7 linked regions of the Homo sapiens genome follow. The protein of the gene in region 4 purifies or fractionates together with the protein of the main gene of each other region. This does not show direct contact. Each region holds a gene or a part of one and is shown on either strand. Other genes may lie near its edges. The genes, in order: LETM1, ICMT, HACD2, SLC23A1, ALG1, CMTM6 and GALNT2.

Region 1 (4,029 bases), on a different chromosome or scaffold from region 4:
ATTTTAAAATACAGGTTTTCTAGACCAGGAACACTCCCCTACCGGTGCTATAGGGGAGTCATGAGGTCCTTCTAGGGCAGGGTCAGCCAGCTGCAGCCCACAGGCCAGATCAGGACCCTGCCTGTTCTCAGCAGAGCCCTGTGGGGACCTGCGATGCCCAGTCATGTGTCTTGTCTGTGAGGCACCAGCAGAGTTAAGCATTTGTTTTAGACCACACAGCCATGAAGGCCAGACGCCTTCCTGTCTAGCCCATTACGGAAAGTGTGCCGATCCTTGCTTTAGGGAATCACACGAGTTTGTTTGTTTTTGTTTGTTTGTTTGTTTGTTTTTGTTTTGTTTTTGTTTTTTTTTTGAGACGGAGTTTCGCTCTGTCACCCAGGCTGGAGAGTGCAGTGGTGCAATCTCAGCTCACTGTAGCCTCCACCTCCTGGGTTCAAGCGATTCTTGTGCCTCAGCCTCCCAAGTAGCTGGGATTACAGGTGTGCATGCCTGGCTAATTTTTGTGTTTTTAGTAGAGACGGGGTTTCACCGTGTTGGCCAGGCTGGTCTCAAACTCCTGACCTCAGGTGATCCACCCACCTTGGCCTCCCAAAGTGCTGGGATTACAGGCATGAGCCACTGTGCCCGGCCCACACGGGTACTTTTTAAAACCATGAAATAAAAGAGTTTGAGAATGTATTGCACTTAGATGAGAGTCAGTGTGTTGTGAAATGTTTCTGGGAGTGGGGGTCGGGCACAGGCGTGAGATGTTTTCCTTGCCCGAACCACAGTCTGAGCAGTTGGAATGCAGTGCCCTCTCTGCCCTTGCAGGAGGAGAGGCTGAAGAAGGAGCTTCGGGTCAAGCTGGAGCTGGCCAAGTTCCTCCAGGACACCATCGAGGAGATGGCCTTGAAGAACAAGGCAGCCAAGGGCAGCGCCACCAAAGACTTCTCTGTGTTTTTCCAGAAGGTGCTGTGATACGTCTGAGTCCCTGTGACCTCACCAGGGAGCCTTCCCTGATTTTCTGTTTCCCTTTCGCTGTGCTCAGCAGAGTGGAGCTCCCCCAGGTGCTGGCTGGCGCTTGAAAGTTTACCCAGGAGGCTCAGTCGGGGGCCAGTGGAGTGTCAGGAGTCTGCCCCCACGAGCTCCCAGTGAGTTAAGCTGTGGTGGCTGCGCCTCGTCAGCCTTCAGAATTATGGGCGTCTGTGTCTCATCACCCTGCAGCTGTCCAGGAGCAGTAGAATCTGACCCATGAGGAGCCTGAGACCCTGATGGTGTGAGGTGTGGGTGGCTTGGCCGGGCTCCTCTGCTGGGCATTGCCCTCTGGCTGGAGTCAGTCAAGAAGATCCCAGGTCCCAGGGGCTGGTCAGAGGCCTGGACTGTGGGAGCAGTGGGGGCTGGAGAGGAGGAGCGGCCCTTGAGGTTTCCTGCGGTCATGTGGTGAGTGAGGTGAGGATGGGGAGACGGCAGCTGCCACGGACCGAGATCCCTGAGGACTAGATGGGGTTCACGAGGCCGGTGTTGTTGGCTTGAGGGACTTGTGCCACTTTGGAGTGAGAAGGATGTGTCTGAAGTGCAGGAAGAGCTTAAACCAGGGCCTAGAAACTCCAGCCATGCGTGTGCGTTGTCTGTGGGGTTTTCCCGCTGCAGCACAGAGGCGAGTGGTTTCCATGGCTGCAAAGCCAGAAATACTTGCTGTCTGGCCCTTGACAGAAAAGACTGCCAGGCTGAGGCCTAACCACGGAGAAGCCTCTCGGGAGGAGGCGACACAGCCATGGGGCTGCTGAGCCCCCCAGGGAGTGGGTGGTGGTTCCAGCAAGATGTTTTAGGGGGAGCCATGCTTTGGGAGCCTCACCCAGGACATCGTGCCTTGCAGAGCAGGAGGGGCCCGTCCCAACCTTTCCTGGGCCGCCCAGCTGCCAAGAAGGATGTGCTTGCAGTCACCTGCACGGGGGTGTGCTGCATAGGGCCGCCCCCAGGAGCACACCTGAAATTGTGTCTCAGAGCTGGCATCCTGCATGTTACGATTTGAGTTGGGCACCAAGTCAGCCTCGTCCTCCCTCATCTGTCACCTCTGCTAGGTACCCTCCTAGCCCAGCTCTTGGCAGAGACTGAGCTGGTGGCTTGTCCCTCAGGTGGTAGGAACTGCAGAGGATCACCCAAAGGGCCCTGAGTGATCCACGCTAAGGGACTCTAGCTCTCCCTAAAGAGCTAGATGGCCACCCCTCCCCCAAGGCTCAGGCAGTCATCCGTGGGAGATGTAGGTGCACACAGGTGCACCTCTTCCTGCCCCAGAGCAGCAGGGTCCCGGCCACTTCTGTGGCAGAGAGAGGATCACAGGACCTGCATGCAGCAGCCTGTGGGCCCGGGCGTCTCCCCCAGCAGACAGCAGCCTCAGCTTTGCTGGTTCAGGCAGGAGAGGTCCACAGGCCAGACGCCACCTTTCCCCAGGCTAGCCCAGCACCGGAGTCAGAAGTCAGTGGTTTGAGGCCAAGCTGGGCAGGTGACTTGAGGTCGGGTATTTGAGACCAGCCTGGCCAACATAGTGAAATCCCATCTCTACTAAAATACAAAAATTAGCTGGGTGTGGTGGCGCAGCCTGTAATCCCAGCTACTCGGGAGGCTAAGGCAGGAGAATCCCTTGAACCCAGGAGGTGGAGGTTGCAGTGAACCGAGATTACACCACTGCATTCCAGCCTGGGTAACAGAGCGAGACCCTGTCTCAAACAAAAAAAAAAAAGAAGAAGTAGTCAGTGGTTTGAGTCCCTGAGGATGAGAGGCAGCACCCTTTGGGAATGTGGTTGGTCGTGGGAGGGAGCCGGGTGGGCGCGTGTCCCGGGGATGACCCTTGTGACCACTTCCGCAGATCCGGGAAACAGGGGAGAGGCCCAGCAATGAGGAAATCATGCGTTTTTCCAAATTATTTGAGGATGAGCTGACCCTGGACAACCTGACACGGCCGCAGCTGGTGGCCCTGTGCAAGCTGCTGGAGCTACAGTCCATCGGCACCAACAACTTCCTGCGCTTCCAGCTTACCATGCGGCTGCGCTCCATAAAGGCAGACGACAAGGTGAGCCTGGCCATACTCCGCGCCACAGCTCTGGTGTTTTACCTTTTCGTTTCCTGATGATAAAAGCAGCATGTCCTCATTGTAGAAACTCTGGAAGATGCTGAACGATCGAAAATAAGCTCACTAGGAGTCTTGCCACTTGCAGATTGCAGATCCTTTGAAGATGGATGTCTTTTCTCTGGCACCTTCTCGGATGATCTCTCTGTTTGGATTTCGTCAGATTTATAATAACTTGCTTAGTTGTGTCTGTCTTTGTGTTCATCCTGCTTATTGATGACAGTGCCTCTGTGCCTCTCTCCTCACATCAGGGTCTTCATCGAGGGTCCATTTGCCCCTTTGCCCTGTCCTGTCCATCGCACGTGCTTGCCTCTGTGCTTCACGCCCTTTTGTGCTTTCAGGGCGCTGCCCTCCTTCTAGGTCTGATTACTCCTTTTTTTTTTTGAGACGGTGTTTCGATCTTGTTGCCCAGGTTGGAGTGCAGTGGCGAGATCTCGACTCACTGCAACCTCTGCCTCCTGGGTTCAAGCGATTCTCCTGCCTCAGCCTCCAGAGTAGCTGGGATTACAGGCGCCCGCCACCATACCCGGCTATTTTTTGTATTTTTTAGTAGAGACAGGGCTTCATCACATTGGCCAGGCTGGCCTCAAACTCTGGACCTCAAGCGATCTGCCCACATCGGCCTCCCAAAGTGCTGGGATTACAGGCATGAGCCACTGTGTCCGGCTGGTTACTCTTTTATTCATACTAGGAGCTCTTAAGATTTCAGTTCTCAGGTAAAACTGTTCCTCTTGTCATCTGTCTTTTTGAATGCACTAACTCTAGTTCACATTGATTACTCTAATAACTGGGTGGTCCGTAGGCCTTTTTCTTTTGCTCTCCCTTCTGATTTTGTTTGTAGTGTTTAGTTTTTCCTGAATGCAGGCATTGTCTGTGGAAGACAAAGAGGTTCAGGGCAGTGTTGAACTCTTCCAGGAAGAGCC
Region 2 (4,029 bases), on a different chromosome or scaffold from region 4:
ATTCTCCTGCCTCAGCCTTCTAAGTAGCTGAAACTACAGATGTGTGTCATCACACCTGGCTAATTTTTGTATTTTTTAATTAATTTATTTTTTTGAGATGGAGTTTCACTCTTGTTGCCCAGGCTGGAGTGCAATCATGTGATCTCAGCTCACTGCAACCTCTGCCTCCCGGGTTCAAGCGATTCTCCTGCCTCAGCCTCCTGAGTAGCTGGGATTACAGGCATGCGCCACCATACCCGGCTAATTTTGTATTTTTAGTAGAGACGGGGTTTCTCCATGTTGGTCAGGCTGTTCTCGAACTCCCAACCTCAGGTGATCTGCCTGCCTTGGCCTCCCAAAGCGTTGGGATTACAGACATGAGCCACCATGCCCAGCCCCTGGCTAATTTTTGTATTTTTGTAGAGACGGGGTTTTTCCATGTTGCCTAGGCTGGCCTCGAACTCCTGCGGTTGAGTGATCTACCCGCCTCGGCCTCTCAAAGTGCTGGGATTACAGGCGTGAGCCACCACATGTATTTCTTTTTCTTTCTTTTTTTTTTTTGAGACAGAGTCTCACTTTGTCGCCCAGGCTGGAGTGCAGTGGTGCGATCTTGGCTCACTGCAACCTCCACCTCCCGGGTTCAAGTGAGTCTCCTGCCTCAGCCCCCGCGAGTAGCTGGGATTACAGTTGTGCACTACCTCGCCCAGCTAATTTTTTGTATTTTTAGTAGGTTTAGTAGGGGTTTCACTGTGTTGGCCAGGCGGTTCTCAAACTCCTGACCTCAGATGATCCACCCGCTTCAGCCTCCCAAAGTGCTGGGATTACAGGCGTGAGCCACTGCATCCAACCCGCATATTTCTTTTTTAAAATTACTATTTGGCTAGGCACAGTGGCTTTGGGAGACCAGAGCAGGAGGATTGCTTGAGGCCAGGAATTAGAAACCAGCTTGGCTGGCCGGGCATGGTGGCTCATGCCTGTAATCCCAGCACTTTGGGAGGCTGAGGCAGGCAGATCATGAGGTCAGGAGATCAAGACCATCCTGGCTAACACAGTGAAGCCTCATCTCTACTAAAAATACAAACAATTAGCCTGGTGTGGTGGCACGCATCTGTAGTCCCAGCTACTTGGGAGGCTGAGGCAGGAGAATGGCGTGAACCCGGGAGGCGGAGCTTGCAGTGAGCCGAGATCGCGCCACCGTACTCCAGCCTGGGCGACAGAGCGAGACTCCATCTCAAAAAAAAAAAAGAAAAAGAAACCAGCTTGGCCAACATAGTGAGAACCCTTCTCTCCAGAGGAAAAAACTAAAAATATATCTGGAAGTTGTAGTGTGCACCTGTAGTCCCAGCTACTCAGGAGGCTGAGGCAGGAGGATCGCTTTGATTGCTGCTGTACTCCAGTCTGGGCAACAGAGTGAGACCCTGTCTTAAAAACAGAAAACAAAATTATTTATTTGTGTATTAAAGATGAGATCTCGCTGTGTTGCCCAAGCTAGTCTCAAACTCCTGGGTTCCAGCAGACCTTCTGCTTTTGTCTCCTGAGTAGCTGGGACTATAAGTGTGCACCACCATGCCCAGCTAACTTTTTGTTTTTTGTAGAGATGGGGTCTTAGTGTTGCCCAGGCAGATTTTGAACTCCTGGGCTCAAGCAGTCCTCTCACTGCAGCCTCTCAAAATGCTGGGATTACAGGCATGATCCACCATGCCCAACCCAAAGCCTTATTTCTTTTTTTTTTCTTTTTGAGACAGAGTCTCGCTCTGTCGCCCAGGCTGGAGTGCAGTGGCGCAATCTCGGCTCACTGCAAGCTCCGCCTCCTGGGTTCACGCCATTCTCCTGCCTCAGCCTCCTGAGTAGCTGGGACTACAGGCGCCCGCCACCATGCCTGGCTAAATTTTTTGTATTTTTAGTAGAGACGGGGTTTCACTGTGTTAGCCAGGATGATCTCAATCTCCTGACCTCATGATCCACTTGCCTCAGTCTCCCAAAGTGCTGGGATTACAGGCGTGAGCCATCGCGCCTGGCCGCCTTATTTCTTGAAACTGTTTCTTGATTCTTTACTCTTGGTCCTAGAAAAACTTGGCCAAAGAATGTGAATAGATCTTGGAAAATTCACGAAGTGTTTGGGAAAAGTCTCCAAGTCTTTGGGCAAATCCAGAGATCTCTCAGGCATCCCATCAGCAATGCATGGTCCTTGGTGACTCTGGTGACCCCTAACGGTATAGGTGGGGCAAATGATCACATAGCATTTACAATTTTTGTTTCTGAAACATGTAAAACCGCCACATTAACAATCACCTTCCCTGGGAACAAATTAGTTATGACTGAATAATGTAATTTGCCATAAATGCTTGCTTCCTGTATATGTGTGTGCACTAGAACCAAAGGGTTTTCCATACCTTTTTGCCCATAGATTTTTTTTACATTGTGCTCCAGCACTTGTGTGTGTATGAAAGGAACATGTCTTTCCTGATATAATACTTACACTTACTGTTTACAAAATCCTGTTTTCTATCTTATTATTTCAATACTGTTCATAATGTACTAAATGATTTCATGGCTTAGTAACAGGCTGCAGCCTGCTATAGAGAACTCCCACTGTAGGGTATCCCCAGCAAGCTATGCCAGATGTGAGGGTACAGGCCCCGGAGTCACTGACTGGGCCAGTCCTGATTCTGACATTCACTGCTTGGCCTCCTTCTCCTCTCATGTTAAAGTGGGGGCAGCTAGACATAGTGGCACATGCCTGTAGTTCCCCCTACTCTGGAAGCTGAGGCAGGAGGATGGCTTGAGGCCAAGAGTTCAAGTCCAGCCTGGGCAATATAGTGAGACCCTGTCTTTAAAAAATAATAAAATTTTAAAAAAAACAAAGTGGGGATAGTAGCGTGCCCTCAAAGGTTTGCCATGAGAGTTGAACAGGGTAATGATTGTAAAGGGCTTAGCATGGCGCTGGGAACATAGTAAGTGCTCAATAAGAGAAGGTGTGAGAGGTCAGGACATGAGCCTGGCTCTCCGGGTGGCTGTATTGGAGCCTAAAATATATATTCAGAAAACATACAGAAAATGTATGTTGGGGAAGATGCACATCCACAGGGGACCAGTGGGCAGGTGTAGGTGAGTGGTTCCCTGAGGAGCTGGGGAATGCTTTTGGCCTTGAAGGACTGTTTGGCTGGAGATCAGTGGGAAGGATGTTCTTTGTTTTTTTTGAGAGGGAGTTTCGCTCTGTCGCCCAGGCTGGTATGCAGTGGCGATCTCAGCTCACTGCAACCTCTGCCTCCTGGGTTCAAGCAATTCTCCTGCCTCAGCCTCCCAAGTAGCTGGGATTACAGGCTCCCACCACTACGCCCAGCTAATTTTTCTATTTTTGGTAGAGACGGGGATTCGCCATGTTGGCCAAGCTTGTCTCAAGCTCCTGACCTCAGGTGATCTGCCCTCCTTGGCCTCCCAAAGTACTGCAATTAACAGACATGAGCCACCGTACCTGGCCAGGATGTTCTTAAAGGTGGAAGAAAGGGCCAGGAGTTCGAGACCAGCTTGGGCAACATTGTGAAACCCCATCTCTACAAAAAATACAAAAATTAGCTGGGTGTGGTGGCATGTGCCCTTAGTCCCAGCTACTTGGGAGGCTGAGGTGGGAGAATCACTTGAGCCCAAGCAGTTAAGGCTGCAGTGAGCCATGATCACGCCACTGCACTCCACGTGACAGAGTGACAATCTGTCTCGGGGGAAAAAAAAGAGGCAAAGTGGGCACAGCGTGGGGAGGGCAGGAGACTGGGGAAGTGGGCGAAGTGCTGCTCTTCTGGGGTTGGAAACCCAGACTCAGGGGGTGGGGTTCAGTCTCTGGAGCTCTCTGAGCGTGGAGGTAATCTGCTGGAAGGGGCATTTCGGAAGCTGAGTTTTGTGGCACTGTATCTCGTGCTGAAGCAGAGGCTGTGGGTTTAGGAGGCAGAGGCCCAGGCAGCTGTGGTGTAAGCGAATGCATTTGTGGTGGGAGGGTCCTGGGCAGGAAGGCAGCGTGCATGGGACCTCATGTTGGGGAGCTCACACCTGGAGGTG
Region 3 (4,029 bases), on a different chromosome or scaffold from region 4:
AAAACATTTACCAAGCAAGTACAAAGGAGCATGTAGTAGCAAGGTACAAAAGGAAGCCTGGCTGAGTACCATGGCTCACACCTGTAATCCCAGCACTTTAGGAGGCTGACATGGGGGGATTGCTTGAGGCCAGAAATTCAAGACCATCCTGGGAAACATAGCGAGACCCCATCTCTACAAAAAATTAAAAAATTGGCCAGGCATGGTAGCACATGCCTGTAGTCCCAGCTAATCAGGAGACTGAGGTGGGAGGATCACTTGTGCCCAGGAGTTCAAGGCTACAGTGAGCCATGATCGTGCCACTGCACTCCAGCCTGGGTGACAGAGCAAGACCCCATTTCCAAAAAAAAAAGTATCTATAAATAAAATGCTACTCATGGATAAAATGTGGTCTATGGATATAAACATTCATAAAATTAATAAAGGCAAATGAATTACTGATATATGCCTGGATAAATCTTGAAAAAATGCATGTGAAAGGAGGCAGATACAAAAAGTCACAAATAGTATGATTTCATTTATAAGAAATATCCAGAATAGGCAAATCCATAGTGACAGAAAGTAGAGGAATTGTTAGGGGCTGTGGGGAGAGAGAGTGGGGTGTGACTGCTAATGGTACAGGATTTCCTTTTAAGGTGATGATATTGTTCTTGAAATAGTGGTGGTGGGTGCACAACTCTGTGAACATATTAAAAACCACTAGATTGTACAGTTTAAAATTGTGAATTTTGTGGCATGTGAATTATATGTCAGTTTTTAAAAAACGAGTTCCTCTGTAATGAGTTGTGGGTGTTTTCTACTTTATTCATTTTTGGAGTCCATGATATTCATTGATGAGGCAGATGTTATCTTTGCATATTTGTCAAGTATAGTTAGATTAAAAATTAGTGGACTAATGCAGTTATGGCAGTTTAAAATTATGTTTGAGAGAATTTGGGTTTCTAAATATCTTTGGTTAACATAAGACTGTAATTATAGCAAAGACACTTTCTTTTTTTTTTTTTTTTTTGAGACAGAGTCTCACTCCATCGCCCAGGCTGGAGTGCAGTGGCGCGATCTCGGCTCACTGCAAGCTCCGCCTCCCGGGTTCACGCCATTCTCCTGCCTCAGCTTCCCGAGTAGCTGGGACTACAGGCGCCCGCCACCACACCCGGCTAATTTTTTGTATTTTTAGTAGAGACGGGGTTTCACCATGTTAGCCAGGATGGTCTCGATCTCCTGACCTCATGATCCGCCAGCCTCGGCCTCCCAAATTGCTGGGATTACAAGTGTGAGCCACTGCGCCCGGCCAAAGACACTTTCAAATACTCATGATTGGATATGCCTCTGTGATTGACAGTGAGATTTCAAATGGGTTAAAGATTGCTCTGCAAAGAGGTTAACTGTTGAGATTGATACAGGCTATCTTCAACATATGTACATTGCTGTATATGACATTTACCTACCATTGTGCATCTGGGACTTCCTGATGGACCACAGGAATTCCCTTTTCTTCCCATTCTCTTCCAGATCTTTCTTCTACTTGAAACCCCTTATCTACAAAAATGAATAAACAACCCAATCTCATTTCTGATCGTGTCCTGGAATTGATCTAGGGCAAGGTCTGGAGAAGTGGTGGGAGACAGCAGACAGCTTTTGTTAGTCTTCTAACCCCAGCACTTTCTCAGCCTCATCTGTGTGTTCCTGTCTCACTCTGCAGACCTCACTTCACAATGCTCTTCAGATCCTTTAATGAATAGGAAATTGATTTTGGGTATTTCTATAAAATACAGCAAAGTCTTAGAAACTTGCAGTGTCCTTAAGAAGAAAGATCCCTTCTTATCTCCCTGCCAGTTTTTCTTTCTTTATGGCTCAAACACTAACTGATTTTTGCCATGGAGGTATTGTGCTTCAGACTGCTTTTGTGAACTGGTTTGAGGACATAACCGTTGTCTGTTATATTTTTCCTTCTTGTGGAAACATTCTGATTTCCCAGTAATAGTCTCAAAAAGGAACTTCTGAAATGCAAGCTACATGCATGTGTTAGGCTCCTTTTATTCTGGACCCATTTTGAGGAAACACATCTCTAAAAGAGGCTTTTGAAAAGCTAGCAAGAGCAAGTTATAGTGTAGATATCTAACACAAATAGGAATGACAACAAATCCCAGAAAAACCAGCTTCTCAAACAGTGTGAAAACCAGAGGAAAACTCTAACTTGATTAAAATTAATAAGTGTCACAACATTAGAAGGGAAGAGAGAGCTGGAAGGAAACAGGAACCCACCCACACAGGCCTCACTGCTTGGTGACTCAAGCAAATAGAAGCAAATTGATGTGGTATTCAAAGAGGTACAATAGCTAACATCTGTAGAAGGGAATGTACTGAAATTAAAAAAAAAAAAGAACTAAAAATATCAATGGTGGCAATATAGGGCACGAAGGAGCCACAGTGCAAGAAATAGGTGATACTGAAGATTCAAAAAAGGCGGGAGTTTCCACTCACGTTCTCATATAAAATGAATTGCAGAACAGAAGTCATAGGGAAATTTTCAAAGTTCACCATGTAAAAGAAACATTACAAAACATTATAACAGAAAAACAATATATATAGAACCAATGTATCTAGAAAACCTGATGAGGTTGTATAAGCTTTCAAAAAGTAAGACTACCAGAGGAAGTAGAAAAGGTTGGAATATACAGCTTATAAATAATCAGGGAGAAAAGTTATAGAAAACTTTGCTGAACTGAAAGGCCACCTCACTATGGTTAGTGAGAGTTTATGGTGTTCCACAACAAAAAAATTTCTTCCCTTCCTGAGTACTTAAACAATTTCCAGCATAAAAGAGCAGATTTTAAAATGTAATAGTTAAAAACAACTTGGGACCTTAAACTTGAAAGAAGAAAAAATCCCCGTGTAGTAGGAAATATTAGGTTCCTGGATAACAGACCATGCAGTTTCCTAAAGCTGGAAACATTTTGAAAACACTTAGAAAAGCTAATGGAACTTTGAAAGCACCTTACCAAAGATTATTTAACTTTAATCAGAGTAGTTAGCTGTTATCAAAGAGTAACTGTTATATAAATAAATAAAATTAACCAAGTTTTCAGACTAGCACTGTCCAATAGGACTTTCTGCAGTGATAACGTTGGAACGCTGTCCAAAACAGTAGCCACTAGTCACTTAAAATGTGGCTAGTGGGTCTGAGAAACTGAGTTTTTAATTTTATTTACTTTTGGTCAGGAGTGGTGGCTGACACCTGTAATCCCAGCACTTTGGAAGGCCAAGGTGGGAGGATCGCTTCAGGCCAGGAGTTCAAGACCAGCTTGGGCAATATAGCAAGACCTCGCCTCTGCAAAAAATTTTAAAAATTTAAAAAATTAGCCGGATACAGTGGCGCATATTAGTCCTAGCTACTCGGGAGGCTAAGGCAGGAGAATCGCTTGAGCCCAGGAGTTTCAGGCTGAAGTAAGTTATGGTCACTCCACTGCACTCCAAGTCTAGGAGACAGAGCAAGACCCTGTTTTCCAAAAAAAAAAAAAATGAAAATTCTTTACTCTTTATTTAAGTTTAAATAGGCACATATGGCTAGTGGCTGCACAGTATAAGCCTTTAGACCACGGTACAGAATGCAGTGTGATCATGTGGAATCCCATAAGATATTTCAGATTTTACCAGGATAGAATGAAGTGGGAAGGAGGATAAACATAACGATGTAAATTTTGTATCACTCCAGAGTTCATAAATTTTTAAATTGATAATAGAATAGTTATATGCTGATGTTTTCAGATTAGGAAAATCAATAGGGAATAAAAGCACAATTGCAGATACTGAAAAAGGTATGGAAGAGTATATATCAAACTGTTAATTAGAGCTTACCTCTGGAGGGGCGTGGTATTTTGGGGCAAGGGGGGAGTAAAAGATTACCACTTTTAATATACTTTAGTATATATTTATATATCACATGAAACATGTAATTTTTTAAAATAAAATTCTATATTATATGTAATTGAAAACAAGATGAATGAGGAAAATAAGATTTTAAAGTTTTTT
Region 4 (4,029 bases):
GTTTCACCATGTTGGCCAGGCTTGTCTCAAACTCCTGACCTCGTGATCCACCCGCCTTAGCCTCCCAAAGTGATGGGATTACAGGCATGAGCCACCATGCTCGGCCGTGATGTTTTAATTTTGTGACTTTATGACTTTGTGGTTTTTGAGGATGAAGTAAGACACTTAGCTCTGCCTTACCCATAGTATATGTTTGCTAAATGTTAACTGTTTGTTATCAGAGCACCTGGTGACATTTATTTTATATATTTACTGGCATCTTTATGCGGGCCCCACAAAGTATCCTCCACGATCTTTGCAAAAAGCTCTGGTACCAAAGGGAAATGTTAGTGGCTCTTCTAGTCGCCATTGTGGCAGGCTGCTGACATATTTGGAGTGGATGGATTTTGCCAACAAACTGATGCTGCATTTATCTCTGTCCTACTCTGAAGAAAGCAAAGACATCCCTCAGCCCAGTGGCTATTAAGAAATGGAGAGGAGGCCAGGTGCAGTGGCTCATGCCTGTAATCCAGCACTTTGGGAGGTTGAGGCGAGCGTATCACTTGAGGTCAGGAGTTCAAGACCAGCCTGCCCAATATGGTGAAACCCCATCTCTACCAAAAATATGAAAATTAGCTGGGCGTGGTGGCAGCCACCTGTAGTCCCAGCTACTCAGGAGACAGGAGAATCACTTGAACCCTCCGGGAAGTGGAGGTTGCAGTGAGCTGAGATCGCACCACTGCACTCCAGCCTGGGTGACAGGGCGAGACTCCATCTCGGAAAAAAAAAAAGGAAAGAAATGGAAAAAGTGGAGAGGAAAGGATTCACAGGACCCAGCAGTGACTCTTCCGGCCCCATCCTCTTCAAGACCTCTGAGGCATGTCTGTGCCTCATTCTCTCCCTCCAGCCAGTGAGCACTCCACCAGCCCATCTATTCCTGATGCTCCCTGCAGGGCCTGCATTGCATGGGACCTAACCACACAGCTCCAGCTCAGAGGCCATCTGTTGGAGTGCATGAGTCCAGCCTAGTTCTTCATTCCCCTCCCAGGACCGAACCATACCTGGCACTGTGTTGTCAAGTATGAAAGCAAGGCACCCGCCCACAAACATCTCCGTGGTCAGCAGCACAATCAGAATCTGATCCACTTCAAGAATGCCTGTGGAATAGGCCAAGGGCCAATGGGTGTCATGGCCCAATCTGGAGAGCAGAGTTGAGGGACTTCCTCTTGTGCAGCTATGGCAAAGGAACAGTACAAAGCCCTGTCTCAAACCTATCTCTGTCTTTCCTATCTCTGGGTTCAAGTCCCAATTCTGCCAGTTGCTAGTTGTTCACCTGGGACAAATCACTGAGCCTCATCTTCCTCATCTGTAAAGTTGAAATGATAATGGAGAAATGATAAATGTAGATAAATGGAGCTGTTTTGAAAATTAAATAAGCACATGTAAAGGTCAATATCTGTCCACAGGAAGTGTCTTAGTAAAGGACAGCTGTGACCCAAGCTCTCAGCTGCTGGTTGACACCCAGAGTTGGGTACGATTTGTGGCTGTAGCTGTGTGGAGCCTTTGAGGGAGGGGGCTGTGCTCAAAATTTTGGGCCCACCCCGCCTTTGGAGACAGTAAACAGCTGGAGGCACCTGTATTGATGGCGCCAGGGTTGGACTCCAGGTAATTGGGCAGCGTGAGCCCGAAGAACATGGAAAATCCCAGCACGAAGAGGTTGCGAGAGGAGTTCATGTCCACAAATTGCAGGTTGGACAGCCCCACAGCTGTAATCATGCCTAAGGGCGCAAGAGAACGGCTGGAGGCGCCGCACACGCGTAATCCAGGTGAGTCCCACTCGGCGACCCGCACCGCGACCCGTGGCCCGCGCCAGACACTCACCAAAGAGAGTGCAGAACATGCCCCCCAGGATGGGGTCAGGGAGCGAGGCGAAGAGGGCCGTGAACTTGCCGATGGTGCCCAGGACCAGCATGATAGCCGCACCATACTGCACCACGCGCCGGCTGCCCACCTGCCGGGGAGCCAGCGGGGAAGCTAGACCTGGGGACGAGGCTGGGGCGGGGTTAGTTCCAGGGGCGGGGCCTGTTATAAGAGCGAGGCATAAACCGGCTGGGGCTTGATGCGGGGGCGAGGCCTCTCAAAGACAGGGTGGGGCTAAACCAAAGTGGGGACCGAGTTGGGGCGGGGCCTGCGGCCCACGGAATTAGGGCAGGATTTGGCTCTGGCTCGTCGCGACACCTTGGTAATTCCCAGGACGCCAATGTTGGGACTGGACGAGGTGGACCCGTTGCCCGTGCCCAATAGCCCCGCGATGATGCAGCAAATGCCTTCGGTGAAGATGCCCCTGTAAGGAAAGGGAGAGTCGGGGCTTGGTCCAGCCTCTGCACCAGTCTGTGTTCCCCCATCATCTTAGCAAGCTGCCGTCCTCTGGGGCTGTGGGGGCTGCAGCTATCAGCTGTAGCACTCCCTACTACAGGCCAGAATGCTCAGGCTCCAGAGCTAGTCCTAGTGCCCTGGCACTTACTCCTGTGGGTAATTCTGGCCTTCAATTTCCTCCTGGGATAAATACCGGTGCCCGTCTCACAAAATGCTTCAAAGATTGCATAAGAATGCACAGTCAGAGCCGGGCACATGGAGGGCTGTCAATGACGGTGGTTCCCTTTGGACTCCACCATCTTCTCAGCTACTCCCAGCAAAGACAGAGGGGTGATGAGAGGGCACCCCCATCGCACAAACAAGGAGAATGAGGTCTGGAGCGTGTTCCCGACTTGCCTAAGCCTACCCCCTGGGCCTCCACCCCGTTCCTGTGTGTGCTTCCTGGGTGGCGCCTGAGGAGATCAGATACTGAGGAGGGCAGGTAGGCTACCTGTTGATAGCATGTACTGGAGGGGGTGGTGCACCAGCCAGGCGGGCACAGGCGTAGTAATCTCCGATGGACTCAATGATGCCTGCCAGAGTGGCGCTGAACATTCCCAGGACAGCAGCCGCAGTCACCGTGGGCAGGCCCCACTGACCTGTGCTCGGAGGGAGACAGGATGGTGGCTACAGTGAGGAGACTGTGATGGTTAGGAATAGACAGGGCAGTGCTGGAAGGAGCAAGAGCAGATCAGGAGACCTCAGGCTGGGATGGGAGCTATACAGTTGTGGGAGCTTATTTGAGTCACTCAGAGCCAGGAAGTGGGACTGAAGCTTTGTCTAAGTAAAACACCACTCTGCTGGGCGCACTATAAATGTGCGGCTAATGCTAGGTGTGTCACCTGCTGGATTGGGGTCACCAGGAGTCTGTCTCATAGGTGGTCTCAGTTGGGGGCAGAGGGGCCCAAGGGGTGTTGCTCACAGGGGTAGGGGATGCGGATCCAGGGTGCAATAGCCATGATGTCACCACGGGCATCGGTTCGTGCCTGGAAGCCATAGGCTTTTGGGTCTGTGGGCAGCACGTCTGTCAAGGTCAGGACATAGCAGAGCAGCCACACGGTCATGATGGCCAGCATGATCTGAAGGAGGGGGGTGAGGGGGCACTGAAGGCACTGGAGGTCTCTGTCCAGGCTAACCTGCTCCCACCTCAGCCCAAGCCCTGGCCATAGTCCCAGCCCCAGCCGCCTGCCAGGTCCTCACAGGAAACATTTTGAAGATCTGGATGCGGAGGAGAGTGAGGCCCTTGCCCCAGCGGTAGACAGGCAGCAGGAAGGTGAGGTTGCGCAGGTACTGGGAGAAGAGGATGATCAGGAGAATGGAGCTGGGGGCAGAGGCACAATCAGGAAGTGGATGGGAGGCCAGGCTGGGGCCAGGAGCCGGGAAGAAGGACCAAGGACATGAAGAGGGTAGGGTGCTGGGGCTGGGCAGGGATCAGGCCTGGTGCCTGCTCACCAAGCTGAGATGCCCCAGTGGGAGCCAGCTCGGTCGCCAGCAGCTTGGAAGACAGAAAGGCCAATGAGGGAGACAGTGGGGGTGACTGTGAGAGGCCCAATGTAGTTGAGCAGGGCCCCAGGCAGCCCCAGCAGGCCAATCACCACCTCCACCACGCTGGACACCATGATTGCACCCTGGACC
Region 5 (4,584 bases), on a different chromosome or scaffold from region 4:
AAAATTTAAAAATTAGCCAGGTGTGGTGGGACACACCTGCAGCCCCAGCTACTCAGGAGGCTGAGGAGGTAGGATCACTTGAGCCCAGGAGGATGAGGCTGCAGTTAAGCTATGATTGTGCCACTGCACTCCAGCCTGGGCGACAGAGCTAGACTCTGCCTCTAAAACAAACAAACAAAAACCAAACAAACAAACAGAACCAACCTGAAAAGTCCAAGATCATCAATAATCAAGGAGGCAAAAAACAGAACAAAGAGATGGCATTTTTCACCTGTTGGAATGCAAATTCTAAAAAGGTCTAACAACAGCTGGTGATGGTAAGCATGGGGGAGAAGAGGTACCCCCACTCAGCGGGGGCCAAACTGACCCAACCTTACTCTAAAGCTATCCAGTAACATACACATTTTTAAAATGCATCAACTTTGACTACACAATTCCACTGCTGGGAAGTTACCCTAAGAAAGAAACTGGACTTATACAAAAGGCATATGCTCGCTGTGCTTGGAGCCACACTATTTGTAAAAGTAAAAACAAAATCAGGAAGAATCTGAGTATCCATTAACATGAGACTAAATACATGCAGTATAGTACATCACATATTGGAATTCAAGGCTGCCTATTAAAAGAGGAAGGTGTGGGTCACGATGGTTCATGCCTGTAATCCCAGCAATCTGGGAGGCCGAGGCAGGTGGATCACCTGAGGTCAGGAGTTCAAGACCATCCTGGCCAGCATAGCGAAACCCCATCTCTACTAAAAAAAATTACAAAAATTAGCCAGGCATGGTGGCACATGCCTGTAATCCCAGCTACTCAGGAGGCTGAGGCAGGAAAATCACTTGAACACGGGAGGTAGAAGGTGCAGTGAGCCAAGATCGCACCACTGCACTCCAGCCTGAGCAACAGAGACTCCATCTCAGGAAAAATAAAAATAAATAAATAAAAGAGGAAGGTGCTTCTATATATTAAAAATTGATTTAAAAAAAAAAGTATTCTTCCTTCAGCTAGAAAAGAAAGAAAAATTTTTTAAAGAAAAAGTGATCAAGGGAAGGGATTAAAAGTATAACGATAGGCCAGGCGCGGTGGCGCACGCCTGTAATCCCAGCACTTTGGGACGCCGAGGGGGGCGGATTACCTGAGGTCAGGAGTTCGAGAACAGCCTGGCCAACATGGCGTAACCCCATTTCTACTAAAAATACAAAAATTAGCTGGGCGTGGTGGCGGGCACCTGTAATCCCAGCTACTCAGGAGGCTGAGGCAGGAGAATCACTTGAACCCGGCAGGCAGAGGTTGCAGTGAGCCGAGATCACGCCACTGCACTCCAGCCTGGGCGGCAAGAGCGAAACTCTGTCTCAAAAAAATATATGTGTGTTTGTGTGTGCGCGCGTATGCGTGCGTGTGTATACTATAGAACCACACTGACGACCTACGTTCAAATCCTGATTCCACCACTTCCTAGCTGTATGGCGATGGGCTACTTACAGAGCCTTTCTCAGTCTAGGTTTTCTCATCTAAATGAGAACAACCTTAAGAAACAGGTTCTTGTATTACCTACATGCAATATTTCTTAGGGTAACTGTGAGGACTAAATGAGTTAATACATGGAAAACACTTGATACACAGTCAGTACAATGTAAGACTATCTGTAATGACACAGAGAGCATGGATAGGTGCCATAAATAGACACATACCATAGGCTCCTACTCATGTCTTTAAACGCCCATACACACAACACACACACATATGAATATGCAATATAGTACCAATTTGTGCTGGAAAGTAAACTGCTAACATGGCTCTCACAGAGGGAGGCAGAGGCTGATACACACCTGGAGAAAGATATAGGCACCTGGCTCCCTCCACATCAACTTCCACAGCAAGTACATAGCCTGAAGTACAACTTTGACTCCGTACTGGAAAACTCGGGGCCCAACTGCAAGTCAGAAAACACCTGTGACTACCAAAGGAGCGTCTGGCAATCTGCACGGCTTTTCAAACGAACACCCCCTGCCCCCAGCCCATGGATTCAGAGGATTCTGGAGTTGACGGCATCCTACCTGCAAGACTCTGAAGTTCTGTCAACCCCACAATCTGAATTCTGTTGTTCTGCAAGAGCTCATCATGGGGTTTGGAGTCTGAAAAATGAGAATGATCCCTTTAATGTACCAGAAGCAGCAATCTAAAGTCAGATAATCTCCCAACTCAGGCTGAATCACGGACAGTGTTTTGGAAAGTAAGATATTTCAAAACCTCTCTCTGCTCCTCACTAGCCAGAACAGAGAATGCGGCCAATTCTTGTTCAGATTGCTCTAGGAGGCACACAGAGATAGGGCCTGAATCTTACCTACCTTCACTTAACATGATGCCTGGCAAACAGTAGGTGCTCAATTAAACTAATCTAGATTGTCTGGATAGTGGAATTTTCCCACCACAGAGCCATCCCTAGGAAGTCCCACTCTACCCCATCACCCTAGGATAGCAGATTCTAAACAGGGATTAAAGGCAACTAGTGCTGTTCCCACTTCTTCCTGAGATGGGGTTGAGCTACCCTCTCAAGATACCAACGTGGAGAATAATGAGGGAGCAGACACCGCTGCCCTGCACACTGTGGGGAAAAGCTGGACATGAAGAACAAATGAAAACATCTGTCTGCAGAGCTCTGCGTTGAGGGATGAGGAATGAAATATCCTGTCAGCTCAGACATAGCCTGACAAGGGTAGCTGCACAGGGACGTAGCTACCAGCACTAGCCCTGGAGTTCCACGCACCTGGGTTCCACTTACTAGGAGAATTACGTGAGACCACGCAATGGATTCACTTAACACACTTCTGACACGTGGCAAGATTAACGCCGGCTATACCTAGAGACCCACCCAGGAAAGGCTGGGGCAGAACCGCTCGTCTAATCTCGGAGAGCTGCCCAAAGGCGGCGACTAAAGGAGCACTTCCGCCTCGACTCCCCGGGGCGGTTAGAACCGAGGATCAACGGCTGAGAGAGCATCGTCCCTCCCAGACCCTTGGCCACTCACTGCAGAACCCCAGGAGGGTCACCGAGAAGCCGTGCATGGCCAACGACAGCGCGTGGTACTGCATACGGGGGCTGCGGCCCACGTCGCCCAGCACCACCGCTACTACATGCCGGGCCGCCCGCCCCCGGCGCCAGCGCTTCCATCCTCCCAGCAGCAGCAGCGGCAGCAGCAGACACAGCGCCAGCAGGACCAAGCATGAGGCCGCCATCTTGGCTGGCCCGCAGCAGTCACGTGACCGCGCTTCCTCGCGCTGTGCGCAGCCGCAGACCGAGCCTCCGAAGTGGGCCGAGAGGGCGAGAAGTGGACGCGGTTCCCTAACAGGGGCCCGGGGAACCCCCAGGAGCCCCTCGGGGCCAAGAATTAGTAGTAGTAGGACACACGCACATACACCAGATTCCCTACACACCAGTGTATTTCCCCGACTAAAGTAAAGCTGTTACTGTATTGGGATCTAAGAACTCTCTTCAGGATTCAAAGATAATTTCAAAATATAGTGACACAAGAATTTGGATAAATTTCATCCTAACATTGATAAAGGAGCCAGATGCTGACGAGTACGAATTGTAGAGTTCCGTCTATGTAAATAAAAACCAGTCCTCGCTGTTAGAAGTTAGGGGCTGGTGGGTTCTGCTTCTGGATCTGGTGCTGGTAATGTGGGTGTGCTGCATTTGGGGCGGTACCTCAAGCAGCAGATTACCTGCCCATTTTCCAGGGTGTACATCACACTTAATAAAACATTTAAAAGGTAGAGAGGGGGAAGGACAAACAAGGAAGTAAACACCATCATGATTTTGCTTAAGTATCAATGGCTAGAAAGGAAATTTCCACAGTGACCCTCCAATTTCACCTCCCAAAGTAGCCATAGTGAGAGTTTAATGTGTGTCTCTGCGATGGCCTGTATTAGTCCGTTTTCATGCTGCTGATAAAGACATACCCGAGACTGAGCACTTTACATAAGAAAGAGGTTTCATGGACTTACAGGTCCACATGGCTGGGAAGGCCTCACCATCATGGCAGAAGGCAAGGAGGAGCAAGTCACCTCTTACATAGATGGCAGCAGGCAAAAAGAGAGCTTCTGCAGGAAAACTCCTTTTTATAAAACAATCAGGTCTCGTGAGGCTTATTCACTATCACGAGAACGGCACGGGAAACACCTGACCCCATGATTCAGTTACCTCCCACTGGGTCCCTTCCACACAACACATGGGAATTCAAGATGAGATTTGGGTGGGGACACAGCCAAACCGTATCATGACCTTTTTTCTTTGAAAGCGGTCCCTTGCAGAGAAACACCAAGAGCTCACTGGTGATGCTACCCCATTGCCTCCACTTGGGAGCTGCCGCAGAACCTGGAGAGCCACCACCCAGACCGTATTCAACAAACAAACAAGACTCCTCCCCTGATGAGGACCACAGGCAGCACCCACGGGACAGGGTAGCCCACATGGATGTGGCTCCCCAGTGTCCCTGGGCTCAGCTCAGGGCTTGGCACACTTTGCATCTGCTTTTCACAATTGCCCCATCACTCCCTTTCTATGGATTCAGAAGGGACAGCTCAC
Region 6 (4,029 bases), on a different chromosome or scaffold from region 4:
AAAAATAAAGTACTACAGGGAAACACCTTTTAGAAGCAGAGAAAACCTCTTTTTTTTTTTTTCTTTTTTGAGACAGAGTTTCGTTCTTGTCACCCAGGCTGGAGTGCAATGGCACGATCTCGGCTCACTGCAACCTTGTGCTTCCTGGGTTTAAGTGATTCTCCTGCCTCAGCCTCCCAAGTAGCTGGGATTACAGGTGCCTGCCACCACACCCAGCTAATTTTTGTATTTTTAATAGAGATAGGGTTTCACCATGTTGGCCATGGTGTTCTTGAACTCCTGACCTCAGGTGATCCACCTGTCTTGGCCTCCCAAAGTGCTGGGATTACAGGTGTGAACCACCGTGCCCGGCAAGAAAACCTCTTACATTTTATATAAATGTTAAGTGAATGATTGACAATTTAGGAATTCTGTGTTAAATAGTTTTATTGATTTTTTTTTTTTTTTTTTTTGAGATGGAGTCTCGCTCTGTCGCCCAGGCTGGAATGCAGTGGTGTGACCTTGGCTCACTGCAACCTCTGCCTCCTGGGTTCAAGTGATTCTCTTGCCTCAGCCTCCAGAATAGCTGGGACTACAGGCACCCACCACCACGCCCAGCTAATTTTTTTTGTATTTTTAGTAGAGACAGGGTTTCACCATGTTGGTCAGGCTGGTCTCGAACTCCTGACCTCGTGATCTGCCCGTCTCGGCCTCCCAAAGTGCTGAGATTACAGGCGTGAGCCACCGTGCCTGGCCAGTTTTATTGATATTAGGTTTAGTGGAGTTTGCAGTTCAGAAAACTCAAAAAGTATCAGACTTAAAACCCTTTGGAGTGGCTATCATTTTACCAAGTTTCCCTTTCTGAATCAAGTATATATGTCATTACTGTTTTCAGTTGGCATATGAGAGCCTTGTGAGGTAATGCCTGAGAGAGCACTTGGAAACCCATGAAACATCTCATGATTGTAAGCTGCATTATGATAAGATATGGAAGCTTTTATGTAGTAGATAAACTCATCATATAAGCTCACTGTAGATTACCCACTTGGAACAGTTGAAGGCAATGTGTTATTCCAGAAAGCTTCAGTGTCTAAAAAACACACTATTGGCATACTTCTATTTAATAACGGGTGGTTTTTAAAATTCTTTCTTTTAGAAAGTGCTTTCAAAGCATTGGAGTGCTCTCAGAGATGTCATCCTACCATAAAATACTTTGAAAGGAAAGAAAAATGCTTTTTTGCTGGAAGTAAGATGGAATTGTAATAAATGCTTTGGCTTAGATAATTTTAATATGTCCCAGAGAAAAAGAGGACACACACAAACACTTGCACGAGATACACACGAGATCTTTTCCGGGACTGTTTTTTTTTTTTTTTCTTTTTTTGGACTGGATAATAAAAAATGTCCCAGTTAGCTGGGACTACAGGCTCATGCCACCTCTCCTGGCATAGGGGATTGTTGTTATTAAAAGTTTATCTTGTAATGTGTTCTCTCAATAATCCCAGCCCAGTGTGGATACTGTTTTTTTACAGGGTATTTATTGAATGCCAGGCTTATTGAAAAGTTAGAAGTTTGGGTATGTAAGTTTGGGTTGTATCAAGAAAAACAAGTAAGTAGCCAGAGCTTTTTAAAGTTAAAAATGAAAAAGTTCATTTCCATGAATCTAACTGTATTGTATTCCTTTTGTGTTTTGTATGTATGCATAGGATTTTTATATTACTTTGGGAACAGGATGTGTGTTTTTGTTGGCATCCATCATTTTTGTTTCCACACATGACAGGACTTCAGCTGAGATTGCTGCAATTGTAAGTACCTTGTATTTTTAACATTGCTTATTTTTGTTTCCTTAGAAATATGGAATTTGGAGAGTACTTGACAAGTTATACAGCATGTTAGAGTTGTTTTTCTTATAACTTACTTTTTAGTGTAATTTTGAATAGAAGACCTACAAGCAAATCAATATGATAGCCTTTAAAACCTAGAGCCTATAGAATTTGACTGAATTTTGTTTAAAAAAAATCCACTTACTCCACATACCGTGTGTTATTGCTAATGGAAGTGGTAAAATTGACTTTATTATTTTATATTTCTCCACTTTCAGTTCAATAAATGCACACCTACATGCCAGGTGTTTTCTAGGTATGGAGAATATATGGGAGAAATGATTCAGAGACTCAGTCTAGAAAAGGAGACGGAAAAGTAAAATTGTAATGGAGTTTGTTAAATGAACCAATAGCAGTTGTTCTGAGACTGGGTGCCGTGGCTCAGGCTTGTAATCCCAGCACTTTGGGAGGCCAAGGTGAGAGAATCACTTGAAGCCAGGAGTTCAAGACCAGCCTGGGCAAGCAACATAGTGAGACCTCATCTCTATAAGAAGAAAAAAAAAAATAATAGAAAAAAAAGTTGGTCTAGACAGCAGTTTTCAGTGGGTTATACATATCCTTAAAGTTTCATCAGACTTTTCAAGGAGTATGAGGCAGAGATAGTGTTGAGGAAATTAATTTCCAGCTTTTAAACCTCCATATGTAATCTTTTTTAAAACTTGTATGTCTGAGAATTTATCTCTGGTGAAGGAGTCTCACCGGCACTTTTCCACCTTCCCATTCACAGTCGCCACCTACCTTGCCCCTCAAAAAGAAAAAAAACTTGCTTGTCCTGAATCTTGCTGGATTAGTTCCTTCTTGCCCTGCTATATAGAAATACCTGACACTGGGTAACTTATAAAGAAAAGAGGTTTAATTGCCTCATGGTTCTGACAGCTCTATAGGAAGCATAGCAAGGGAGGCCTCAGGAAATTTACAGTCATGGCAGAAGGCGAGGCGGAAGCAGGCACATCTTACATGGCCAGAGCAGGAGGAATAGAGAGAGTGGGGAGGTGCTACACACTTTTAAACAAGCAGATCTTGCAGTAACTCACTATTACAAGAACAGCGCCAGAGGGGGAGTCTGCCCCATGATCCTGTCACTTCCAGCTAGGCTCCACCCCCAACATTGGGGATTATAATTTGACATGAGAATTGGGTGGGGACACAAACCCAAGCCATATCACTTATTATGGTGGATTACCCTGAATTGTAAAACAAAAAAACCCTTGAGTACAACAAAGAGACAGTTGAAAATAAAGATCCAATTTTTCTCTGAAATTCTTGGGGCCAGAATTTTTTTCTTTTGGATTCAGAATATTCTGGATTTTAGAAAGGTAGTGCTGTACATATGCTATATTACACAACACCACTTGAGGGCCTGCGACAGTACCCTGTAATCTAACATTGGTATATCTGAAGTAAAACATATGAATATTTATAGTAAAAGGGATAAGAAAAGACTAAGTAGTCTTACTCCATGTAAATAGGCTTACTTTGTGTCAATTTTGAGCCAAGTGAATCATGAAAACCTTGAGTTAATGTAGTTCTTTGGGTTTCGGAATTGTAAATTAAGGATCATGGCCTTGGACTGGTAGCAGTGCTGTGAACTTGAATGACTAGCAACTGGACAACAAATCATCTTGCAAGTCAGCTGGTTTCCAATTAATACTTTGTTTTTAACAAAATTGAAGTTAGGCCGGGCGTGGTGGGTGGTGGGTCAACGCCTGTAATCCCAGCACTTTGGGAGGCCAAGGCGGGCGGATCAGGAGGTCAGAAGTTTGAGACCAGCTTGGCCAATATAGTGAAAGCTTGTCTCTACTAAAAATACAAAACTTAGCCGGGCATGGTGGCAGGCGCCTGTAGTCCCAGCTACTCGAGAGGCTGAGGCAGGAAAATCGCTTGAACCGAGGAGGCGGAGGTTGCAGTGAGCCAAGATTGTGCCACTGCACTCCAGTGTAAGTGACAGAGTGAGACTCCATCTCAAAAACCAAAAACAAAATTGAAGTTGTAATTAATAGAGTTGTCAGCTAATACATCATTAAAACTGCATTTTATGATAGAAAACTCAAAAGGAGTTCAGAGAATTGCATGGCTATATTTATCTATTCATATGACAACAGTTTCTTAGCACTTACATGTGTAAAAACAAAACATAGAAATAAAATTAACACTGAATCTTGATTCA
Region 7 (4,029 bases), on a different chromosome or scaffold from region 4:
CAACAGGTGCCAAATATATCTGAAATTGAAGCTTATTTGCCCAGCTTGGCAACTTCCGCTGGCTCATTTTCCCTTAAAGTTTTCATATTCCCAGCATGTTCCCACTCCATTCTTGCTGCAAATACAGTCTGAAGTTTGCTGGCCCAGGGAACTGACAAAGCCTCGTTCCCTCCCCAGCATTGCCTTCCCCTGGGGCAGTGTTGGAGGTACCACGGCTTGATTTTCATGTTGGATGCTCTTTTTCCTCACATCCTTACAGCCCTTGGACATGCCCTGGTTATCACCACACAGACCCCAGTTCTCTCCCCATATTTCATTTTTTCCTATGCATTTCAATATTAGAAAAGCCTGACTCACATTTTCTTTAGGGAGGGGCAGGGAGAAGATTTCAACATTCACCCTCACTGCCGGTCTCTCTCTTCAGCTACACCCACGCCCCCAGTCCCCTTCTCTCTCCTCCACACCTTCTTTTTTGGCTTTGTTTTGGTTTTCATTGAGTTCTGTCCAAACATCGAATATTTTTAAGCTGTGAGGAATGGGGGTGTCGGGAGGAAGTGGCCAGTCTCTTGTCAACACCCTGTTTCTTTTCCTGGCTGGCAGGTTTTGATTGGAACTTGGTATTCAAGTGGGATTACATGACGCCTGAGCAGAGAAGGTCCCGGCAGGGGAACCCAGTCGCCCCTATAAAGTAAGTGCCAGCATCCTTCAGGGTGCCCCTCCCAGATGAGACCCCAGGTTCCAGCTTCTTTGCTGGGCCCGCACCGCCTGGAGACCCAGTGGGGGCTGTTCACCTTCTGCCCTCCGGTTTCCCCTCGTCTCAGCTCAAAGATGAGCACCTTCCACCAGGTCATAGAATAAAATCCTTGGAGATTTCTTTTCCACAGTTGAAGTCTCACATAGGTTTATAAGGCCTATCTGCTAGGTCTGTGCATTCCTGTATGTTGATAATGTAGAGCGTTTCTGTAGCAGAGCAGGATCTCCGAGCTGACCCCAGGCCCAGGAAAAGGGGCTTGGTGGGCAGCAGGAGGCTTACTGCTGCTACTGCCCAGCAGGCCTTTGCTCTCCTGCAGAGGAAGGAGCCCATGCTCATGAAGCCCATGCTTTTAAGATTCCCAGGCCGGGCGGTGGGCTTTCTGGTTGAGAGTCAGGATGCCTTCTCTAGCTGGGGAGAGAAGGGGGCCACCTCTTCCAAGTTGGCACACGGTTAAGTGAGATAGCATTCACAGAGTACTTAGCGCTGAAATATATTTGCTGACATTTAGCCAACATCTGCAGTGTGCCATAGACCTTCCCAGCACTTTACACTGAATTCGCACAGCATCGCTTCTGGGAACAAAGTAGGGAGCTCAGTGTACATCTGTTGTCAACCCCTTCCTGGGATGATGAAGTGAGGAGCATGGTGGGTTCCCTTGTAGGAGGTGGAGTCTCATCTATGATAGTGATAATGAGAGCTGGTGCTGTGGAGCATTTCCTAAGCGTGCTCAGGGCTTTATGCCCATGATTTTTTGCAATCCTCGTAGCTACCCTATAAGGAAACTGACACACAGAAAGGCCGAGTTCTTTGCCTATGGCAGCATGTCAGTGAGTAGTGATCCAGCCCCAGCAGTCGCTCCCACATAGGGGAGGCTCAGTCCAGCCCCTGGCACTGTGGGAACATCCAGGCAGGGACAGTGGGGGAGGCATTTGAAGGCAGCAGTGGTGAAGCAGAGAGAGTGGCATGCTGGGCACTGAGCAGAAAACAGTGGCAGTGTGGCTGTTCTGAAGATCAGCTTATTGTTAGGGAATCAAGGCTTGGCCTTGGCGCAAGGGTGCTGGCAATCTAACCTTGACTTTGCCCTCTCCTCCCTCCCCCCTCTTCTTTCTGCCTCTTTAGAACCCCCATGATTGCTGGTGGGCTGTTTGTGATGGATAAGTTCTATTTTGAAGAACTGGGGAAGTACGACATGATGATGGATGTGTGGGGAGGAGAGAACCTAGGTATGTACAAGCCTCAAATCTCAGGACAGAGAAGTGCCTCAGCTCTGCAAAAGGCAGGGTGCCAATTGGAAAAAAAATTTAAAAGGCTTCAGAGTGACCATTCACTGGGCTTAATCGATCCTTGCAAACACATATGTAACACCCCTTTTGCTCTTGAAAGTCTCATGAGTTGGGCATTAAAATGTGCCTCCCTAGGTTAGAGTGGAGGATGCCAGAATACGGATAAAGTCTTTGAAGGGAAATGCAAACTCTTTCAAGGCGTCTGAACCCAAGTGTTTGGAATGTTGCAGGCTTGCAAAAACAGAGGGAAACAGTCCAGGAGCTCAGATTCATGCTGAGTGGTGGAGAGTGGAAAATGAACCCCGGCGAGGCTGGTGGGATTGATTGAATTGAAATCATGAAAATCCGATGGGGCAGGGAGGCCTTGGCACTTAATCCCTTCTCGACTACCTTTGCGAATGGTTCTCATTTGTTTTTCTGTTTGTTTGTTTTTTTGTTTTTAAATACCCCATGCAAATTATTTTTACCCAGGTTTAGGCACAGCAAAATTTTGCACATTGTGGTCTATATTGGTAGCCTTATATTTACTGCATAAAAGATGAAAAGATGTGTTTTGTTTGTTTAGGGTTTGGAGTGGGGGAGATCTTTTTTGCTTGTTTCAATTAAAGCCTTTTGTTTCAAATGCTTGACATTCTGAGCGAATTCTCCTGGGCTGCTGAGTGTTGTTAACTTACATTCGTCCTTGGGTGAGTGTACCCTGGAGGACAGGGGAGAAGGAAAGGGGAAAATGAGGCCACTCATTTTTAATAGTTTTGAGACTTTGAAAGTTTTTGTTACTTTAAAAGAAAAGACTAGCCTAGCCTATTATTTTTCCATTGTTTTATGATGTTGAAGTCAGTGATACCATCTCATCTTTGAGGATTTCTCTGCCTTGGTTTGATGTTGAAAGCTTCTTTAGGCTCGATTACTATACTGCACGGGTGGAGAGACCGTGAGTCAAACTCCTTTTGGGTTGTTTTAAAAAAATGATACATTAACCTCTAGGGAAAGCTTGGATTGAAGTCACTTGAGTACAAAAGGCTTCAGAATTGTTAACCCTCTAAAGAGAGTTCTGTCACCCTGTTCCATGGGTATCCCCTAATGGTTTAGTGGAAATCCAGCAGGCCAGGGTCGCCCAGTAGGGCAGCGTATCGTGTAGGTGGCCATTTCTCAAAAACAGTGTGGTTTTCAGAAGTTTGCATACTATTAGCTGAAATGAGACATCAGCCAGCATTTTGTGTCATCGTGTAGGAAGAGTGTTGATTTACATATCTAAGGAGGCATTCACCCAGAGACTGGGGGGTAGATTTGTTGTAAGGAGCTGCTTTATTGTGGTTTGGTGTTTGTATTTATTATGTAGCTGTGCTAGAAGGTTCTAGGGTCTGAGCGGTTCAGGTTGGGGTGAAGATGAACCCTGCAAGCAGGAGCACATCTCTGCCCAGGAAGGCTGGGGCATCTGTCCCTCCGTGAGGGGCTCTCCTGGGTTATGCCAAGGACTTGGACTCCCAGTGAGGTTTGGAGGGCTCAAGAGCTTCACGTGAGAAGGCCATGCCGTGAGCCTTTCTCCTTAGCACTGCTCTAGCTTCTGCTTCTGGGGGCCGTGCACACTACTAGCCATTGCCAACCTGAGGGGCCTCTGTGGGTGTGCATTGGGAGAGGTGTATGGTGCAGAGAGGCCCGAGTAAGATCCAAAACCACCTCCTCAACGTGTGCCCCGCTGGAATGACCAGAGCTTCCCATTTTCCTAATCATGTAAGTCCTTATGTCATTTAAGCAATTAAAATGGAGGACCAAGAACCTAACCCTTAACTCTAACAATGGGGGTAAGGCTCCTTGGGGGCATCATCTGTGTTTCTCTACATCCCTGTCATGCAAGGATGATGCTAAGTACTTCCAGGGAATCATCTGTTTGTGCTTTCTTAACGGAGTGTGGTCTGCAGAGGTCATGACACCTTGCCCAGGGTCTCAGAACCAAGATGTAAACACTAACTGCCTAATTAAAAAGCCATTGAG

The links.
Region 1: the proteins of SLC23A1 (region 4) and LETM1 purify together in Homo sapiens (affinity purification with mass spectrometry; one large-scale study listed by BioGRID and IntAct). This does not show direct contact.
Region 2: the proteins of SLC23A1 (region 4) and ICMT purify together in Homo sapiens (affinity purification with mass spectrometry; one large-scale study listed by BioGRID and IntAct). This does not show direct contact.
Region 3: the proteins of SLC23A1 (region 4) and HACD2 purify together in Homo sapiens (affinity purification with mass spectrometry; one large-scale study listed by BioGRID and IntAct). This does not show direct contact.
Region 5: the proteins of SLC23A1 (region 4) and ALG1 purify together in Homo sapiens (affinity purification with mass spectrometry; one large-scale study listed by BioGRID and IntAct). This does not show direct contact.
Region 6: the proteins of SLC23A1 (region 4) and CMTM6 purify together in Homo sapiens (affinity purification with mass spectrometry; one large-scale study listed by BioGRID and IntAct). This does not show direct contact.
Region 7: the proteins of SLC23A1 (region 4) and GALNT2 purify together in Homo sapiens (affinity purification with mass spectrometry; one large-scale study listed by BioGRID and IntAct). This does not show direct contact.

What each region holds. Positions count from the first base shown.
Region 1 is NC_000004.12:1,831,764-1,835,792, reverse strand, and holds part of LETM1 (mitochondrial proton/calcium exchanger protein precursor), read left to right. Parts: intron 1-810; coding exon 811-948; intron 949-2,845; coding exon 2,846-3,049; intron 3,050-4,029. UniProt on the Homo sapiens protein: Plays an important role in maintenance of mitochondrial morphology and in mediating either calcium or potassium/proton antiport. Mediates proton-dependent calcium efflux from mitochondrion.
Region 2 is NC_000001.11:6,225,544-6,229,572, reverse strand, and holds part of ICMT (protein-S-isoprenylcysteine O-methyltransferase), read left to right. Parts: intron 1-4,029. UniProt on the Homo sapiens protein: Catalyzes the post-translational methylation of isoprenylated C-terminal cysteine residues.
Region 3 is NC_000003.12:123,574,601-123,578,629, reverse strand, and holds part of HACD2 (very-long-chain (3R)-3-hydroxyacyl-CoA dehydratase 2), read left to right. Parts: intron 1-4,029. UniProt on the Homo sapiens protein: Catalyzes the third of the very long-chain fatty acids (VLCFA) elongation four-step cycle (condensation, reduction, dehydration, and reduction).
Region 4 is NC_000005.10:139,376,362-139,380,390, forward strand, and holds part of SLC23A1 (solute carrier family 23 member 1), read right to left. Parts: intron 4,029-4,029; coding exon 3,847-4,028; intron 3,716-3,846; coding exon 3,595-3,715; intron 3,474-3,594; coding exon 3,317-3,473; intron 2,994-3,316; coding exon 2,846-2,993; intron 2,324-2,845; coding exon 2,218-2,323; intron 1,991-2,217; coding exon 1,861-1,990; intron 1,758-1,860; coding exon 1,614-1,757; intron 1,137-1,613; coding exon 1,041-1,136; intron 1-1,040.
Region 5 is NC_000016.10:5,070,499-5,075,082, reverse strand, and holds the start of ALG1 (chitobiosyldiphosphodolichol beta-mannosyltransferase), read right to left. Parts: upstream 3,241-4,584; 5' UTR 3,234-3,240; coding exon 3,026-3,233; intron 2,836-3,025; exon of another isoform or gene 2,780-2,835; intron 2,133-2,779; coding exon 2,055-2,132; intron 1,931-2,054; coding exon 1,827-1,930; intron 1-1,826. UniProt on the Homo sapiens protein: Mannosyltransferase that operates in the biosynthetic pathway of dolichol-linked oligosaccharides, the glycan precursors employed in protein asparagine (N)-glycosylation.
Region 6 is NC_000003.12:32,485,693-32,489,721, reverse strand, and holds part of CMTM6 (CKLF-like MARVEL transmembrane domain-containing protein 6), read left to right. Parts: intron 1-1,685; coding exon 1,686-1,784; intron 1,785-4,029. UniProt on the Homo sapiens protein: Master regulator of recycling and plasma membrane expression of PD-L1/CD274, an immune inhibitory ligand critical for immune tolerance to self and antitumor immunity.
Region 7 is NC_000001.11:230,248,584-230,252,612, forward strand, and holds part of GALNT2 (polypeptide N-acetylgalactosaminyltransferase 2 precursor), read left to right. Parts: intron 1-600; coding exon 601-688; intron 689-1,873; coding exon 1,874-1,977; intron 1,978-4,029. UniProt on the Homo sapiens protein: Catalyzes the initial reaction in O-linked oligosaccharide biosynthesis, the transfer of an N-acetyl-D-galactosamine residue to a serine or threonine residue on the protein receptor.